Linked DNA regions of Homo sapiens: region 1 is linked to region 2. Evidence: fine-mapped expression QTL. A gene starts in region 2. The other region holds a variant in brackets. All regions are shown on one strand. Distances are between the middles of the regions. Region 1 overlaps LOC124903214 (a long non-coding RNA gene). Region 2 holds the start of MCF2L (MCF.2 cell line derived transforming sequence like).

Region 1 (2,915 bases), 41 kb after region 2:
GCCACTCCCTCCCCGCTGGGAGGCCCCAGAAGACACAGCCAGGAGGACTCTGAACCTCTGTTTGTCATCTGCACGCTGAGTAGCTCAGGTGAGAGGCACGTCCTGGCTCTAACATGCTCCAGTAAAGGCTGGCTTGTGTCTCCTGGTTCTGTGTCCACAGGTGCCAGCCACAGACAGCCCCACTGCAGATGCCACAGACTGTCAGCTGGGAGGAGGCGCAGACCTCCATCCATGTATGTGGCCAGAAAAGGCCCTCGGCCGGGAAGTCCTCTCAAGGAGGGTCTGAGGAGCACGCACATCCCTCTCCCCTGCAGGGAAGCGTCAGAGCTGCTGGAGACTGTTTTTAAAAAACATATGGTCCTTTCCCCGTGCCAAGACCACATGCGTTTTACATGTGTCTCTTAGTCCTGTGTGTGTCCCATACAACAGGCAAAGTAAAGTTTCAGAGTGCACACTCCAGCTATTCACAGACACTAGCGATGCCAATGCTCCTATAAAACAAATACTAGGAGTAGACAGTCATCATGACTTTTTTGGGGGTGAAGGGAGGAAAAAAGCACCATATTTATTTGAAAGATATGGACATAGTTCCTTTCCATTTAGATAGCATCTTTGCAAGTACAGTAACGGCTGGCATGGCTAGACAGAAATAGGCTCTGTGCACATTTCCAAGGATTATAACGAGGCACATTCACGCAGAGAATTAATTATGACTGTGAGGAAAAAAGACCACAGCAGTGCTTAGAAGACTGAGGAATCAAGCAGGTAGGGCAGTGTCTGCCATGCAACTTACATTATAAAAAGTTTTCTTTAAATCATAGAAATTTCAAACGAGTGCAAAAACATCAGAAACGGTGCAATGACTGCAACAACGTTGGTGCACGGCCGGCCGCGTTTCACCCGCATCCCCAGCAACGGCTGCCCACCACCATCAATCCAAGGCAAACCCCAGACAGCACAGAACTGTTAACACGTGCAGAGTTCAGTAAACATTCCTAAAAGGTAATGACTTTTTATACACATAAACACAATACAATCAATTCCACAGCCACAATACAATTAATAATTATTCAGAATTAAATATCTAGCCAGTGTTAACGTTTCTCCTGTTATTTTTCTCTGTGTTTTCTAGACACATTTTGTTTGAACTAGGATCAAAATCTTATCCAGTCCATAGCCTGCAATTGGCTGCTATTTCCTGAGTCTCTTTTGATAGACAGGTTTTCTTGCTGATTCTCTTTTCTTTGTATTTTTGTTGTTGTTGTTGGAGAAACCAGGTCATTTGTCATGT[A/G]GAGCTTCACATGAGGTGGGTTTTGTCGATTACGCCCCCTTGGAGGTGTTTATCATGTGCCTCTGTCCCCGGTATTTCCTATAAATTGACAGTTACATCTAGGTGCCTGGTCAGATTCTGGTTCAGCTTTTACTTTTACTTTTTTGGCAAGAGCAGTTCACCAAGGGAGGTGCTAATGTCCAACTCGCCTTCTGTGATGCCAGCAGCTTCCTGATCAGAGGCTGTGGAATTGACTGTATTGTGTTGATGTTTTATAAAGAGTCATTCATTACCTTTTAGTCTTGCACTTGCTGGTAGAACAAGATGTTGTAGGCTCGTTGGAAACATTTTTCCCCAGACCCGGTCATTTATCCAAAGACCTCCAGATCTTCTCAGTGGGAATGACATGAGGAGACCACAACTGGGCTCTCTGTGTTCAGTTTTTTCCATGGACAGGTCTAGAAACCATGTATTTTACGATAAAAGACACTGGACTTATACAGATGCTTCCAGTTCAACATCAAGACTAGAAGACTATTAAAAAATTGCAAATAACTCTATTTCTGCCAGAGTACTTTTGGGACAGATTCCTAGAAGTGGAATTGCTGGTCAAAGGGCAAACGTGTCTATGACCTCGCTAGATACTGCCAAGTTCACATGATGAGGTCATGCCATTTGCCGCAGCCATGCCACGGGAGAGTTCAGCCCTCCCCACTTCTCCAGCTAAACTTCTGATTAGCAAGAGGCAGTATGCCAGTGTGCTTTTAATTCATATTTCTCTGTAAGTGTGATTTAGCATCTTTTTTCTTTTAAATTGACAAAAACTGTATTTATAGCACACTACATGATGGTCTGAAGTATGTATGCACAGTGGAAAGGCTAAATCGAGCTAATTAGCACATGTCTTAACTCATATGCTTATTTCTTAGTGGTGGGAACACTTAAATCTACTCTTAGCAATTTCAGAAATTCATTATAGTCACCATACTGTACAATAATCCCTGACCAACATCTTCCCAGCACATCCCACCCCGCCCCCTGCCCCAGGCGACCGCCACTCTGCTCCTATGAGTTCCCCTTTCTGCGAGTACACATGTAAGTGAGAACATGCAGGATTTGTCTTTTTGTGCCTGGCTTATTTCACTTAACAGAATGTCCTTTGGGTTCATATATGTTGTCACAAATGATACGGTTTCATCCTTTTCCAAGGCTATACAGCACTCCACTGTGTGTATATAGATGAAGCCACACAGCACTCTGCTGTGCATATCGACCAGGTGGCACAGCACCCCCCTGTGCATGTAGACCAGGCCGTACAGTACTCCGCTGTGCATGTAGACCAGGCCGTGCAGCACTCCGCTGTGTATATAGACCAGGCCGTACAGTACTCCGCTGTGTATAGAAACCAGGCCGTACTGCACTCCGCTGTATATGTAGACCAGGCCGTACTGCACTCCACTGTGTATGTAGACCAGGCCGTGCAGCACTCCGTTGTGTATGTAGACCAGGCCGTACTGCACTCCGCTGTGTACGTAGACCAGGCCATGCAGCACTCCGCTGTGTATATAGACCAGGCCATAGTGCACTCCGCTGTGTATATAGATTAGGCCGTACAGTACTCCACTGTGCATATAGACCAGGCCAT
Region 2 (2,915 bases):
ATCTTGATTAGACCATCCCATACGATGGTGCTTATGCTGATTTAATCACTGGTTCACTCTCAGAATCCATCGGGGTGGGCAGAGAAAGAGAACCACACCCAAACCAAGCAACTGACATTTTAATCTCCCAGGCAAGTACTAGTTAGACAACTAGTAATGGCATATATGACATAACATATGGCAACATCAGGCAAAACACTTGGCAACTTACTTTTAATGATATATCATTATTTCCTCTTCATTTCAAGGAAAACGAGTTAAGGATGCCTCTCCCTTCTGCATAACACAGCCTGAGAACTCAGATGCGACCGCCTGAAAGCCACGGCCAGATGCAAGCTGTCAGCCCAGTCTCTGCTTACACCTAAAAGAATCGATCTGAACTACTCTTCAAAGCTTATTTGAAGTAATATTTCGATTAATACTGAAAATGAACGTCCAGTCCACTCTTTACCCATACCGTCTCAAACATCTGTCTTAGGTTTAAATTGCATTTAATGAAGAAAAGAACCACCTGATTAGTCCAGGTTTTTTCATCCTCAAAACGAGCTTCCAGGTAGCTTCACCATCCCTACCCCTGGCTCTGAAACCCCAAGCTCTGAAAGCCCTTGGCTCAGATCATTCTCCATTCGCAATGCATTCTCCATTGCGAGGGCTGCGGACAGGCAGGTTGATGGGCAGACTTCAGACACACAAATGGCTCCGCATGCAGACCCAGCAACCCTGAGAGAGCCAGTGTCACCAACGTGCAGTCATTTTGACTATCCCGGGCAGCATACGATCGCCGACAGCCTCTGAAAACACACCAGCTGCCAACCAGTGCCCCCCATGTCACAGCTACCACGGCTAGAAAGGAACACGAGGGCGGCTTACAAAAATCAGACGCATTTCCCCACATTTCAGCCCATGATGTCAAGCTTAAGCACAGATCACTGACGGCCAGCAGCTCCTCCTACCCGTGTGCTTGGAAACCGCATTTAATCTCTGCACCATTTCTTCCAAGGCCATCTCTTCAGTCCTCAGCCAAAACCTCATCCTCCGACACAACAAAAATGATCCTGGCAGATCCGCTTCCTCCGCACGGGGGGCGCCTGCGGGTGGGGCCGTGCGAGTGCGGAGGGGGCGCGGCGGAGGCGGGGAGGGGGCCACGGCAGCGCTTTCAGCCTCCAGCCGCCGCCTCCCTGCCCAGGATTGGTTCCGCGCCACCGGGAGGGGGGCGCGCGCTGCGCCGCGGGGGGCGGGGGGCGGCTCGGCGGAAGCGGAAGCGGCGCGCGCCCGCCCCGGTGTGTCACCACCGCGGGTCACCTGGGAGTCCTGTGAGTGCACCGCCGGGGTCACCTGGGAGCCCCGCGTGTCACCGCCGCGGTCGTCGGGGAGCCCCGGGGCTCACCAACGAGGTCACCTGGGAGCCCCGCGGGTCACCGCCGCGGTCACCTGGAAGTGTCACCTGTGTCACTAGGTCACCTAGTGTATCACACAGGTCACCTAGAAATTCGTGTCACCGCCAAGGTCACCTAGAAATTCGTGTCACCGCCGAGGTCCCCTGGGAGCCCCGCGGGTGCCGCACAAGTGCCCCCGCCCTTCCCCCCGGTTCCGGGTCTCCACGCCCTCCTGGTTTGCGGGCAGCCGCGAAGCCGCGAGTGGACCGAGCGAGTGCAGCTGCCTCCGCGGGGCCGCGCCTGGCCGCCGCCTCCCTTTACCTCCGGCCGCCCCGTGGCAGGTGTAGAAGCTGCAGAGGCCGCAGCAGCCCAGCGCGCCCCTTCCGTGTGGCCGCATGCCACCCGCGCCGCGCCCAGGTAAGCAGGTCCGTGGGTCGCTGGGTCCATGCGTGGGTCCGTGGCTGGCCGGGGATGGACCAGCCCCTCCCCGCAGGGGCATCGCCTGCCCAAGGACGCAGGACCCAGTGAGGGAAGCGCGCGCTGCAGGCACGGGGCTCTCCACCCTCGCCATGGTTGGCACCAAGCCACACTGTGCACTCGACACACGCAGCGTCCTGGCTGCCACCTGCAGATTCCAGCTCGTGTCTATGCAGGGCCATGGCCGCCATCACAGGGCCATATGCAAGAAACTCTCTGAGCTCTCCTCGCCCAAAACCGCAGCTATCCTTTTGTGGTTTGGTATTATAGGTAACATGCCCTTCCTTAAAGAAACAGTATTTCAGGCCTGTAGTCCCAGCTACTCCGGAGGCCGAGGCAGAAGCTGAGGCAGAAGCAGGAGGATCATTTGAGCCCAGAAGTTTGAGCCTGGGCAATGTAGCAAGACCCCCCCCCCCACCTCACTCCCCAATCAGTTAAAAGAGAGAGAGAGAGAGAGAGAATTCCAGCAGGAAGAAGTACACATTTCCACGAATGGTTTGGGAATTCAAGCATCATATGGCTGAGGTTTGAACTACAGCTCATGCCAATAACATGTGCACATGCGCCAGCATTCCAGCGTCCAACAGAGCATGCGTGCACCATTCCAGCATCCGGCAACAATGCACCAGCATTCCAGCGTCCAACAGAGCATCCGTGTACCATTCCGGCATTTGGCAACAATGCACCAGCATTCCAGAGTCCAACAGGGCATGCGTGCACCATTCCAGCATCCGGCAACAATGCACCAGCATTCCAGCGTCCAACAGAGCGTGCGTGCACCATTCCAGCATCCGGCAACAATGCACCAGCATTCCAGCGTCCAAAAGAGCATCCGGCAACATCCCGGTGTCCAGTGGCACATGTGCACCTGGACGTTCCAGTGTGGTGAGCTTTCAGGCACGGAGCAAGGCCAAAGGGATAAAAAGATGAAGGTGACGCAGTACTCCCCCTTATAGTGCCTACAGGCCTTATAGGCCAGACAGATCTGGAAATAAATAATTCATAATAAAAAATAATTACAGAATAAGAGGCATAATAACCAGATAGAAAGTATTGAATAAA

Evidence for each region.
Region 1: its variant is fine-mapped to the expression of MCF2L in whole blood (INTERVAL, PIP 0.98).

Annotation. Positions count from the first base shown.
Region 1 is chr13:112,926,193-112,929,107 of GRCh38, reverse strand. It overlaps LOC124903214 (a long non-coding RNA gene), which reads left to right. Exons shown (of 2, transcript XR_007063877.1): 2 at 1-2,915. It also overlaps a transcript of MCF2L not described here. Among named protein-coding and RNA genes, the nearest start is that of MCF2L-AS1, 41 kb to the left of the region's middle. The variant A/G (reference allele first, on the strand shown) is at 1,292.
Region 2 is chr13:112,967,497-112,970,411 of GRCh38, reverse strand. MCF2L (MCF.2 cell line derived transforming sequence like) reads right to left here and starts at 1,198. Exons shown (of 30, transcript NM_001112732.3): 1 at 954-1,198. The coding sequence starts at 1,032. MCF2L-AS1 (MCF2L antisense RNA 1) reads left to right here and starts at 1,774. Exons shown (of 1, transcript NR_034002.1): 1 at 1,774-2,915. RefSeq lists a silencer at 1,263-1,322 and an enhancer at 1,524-2,043.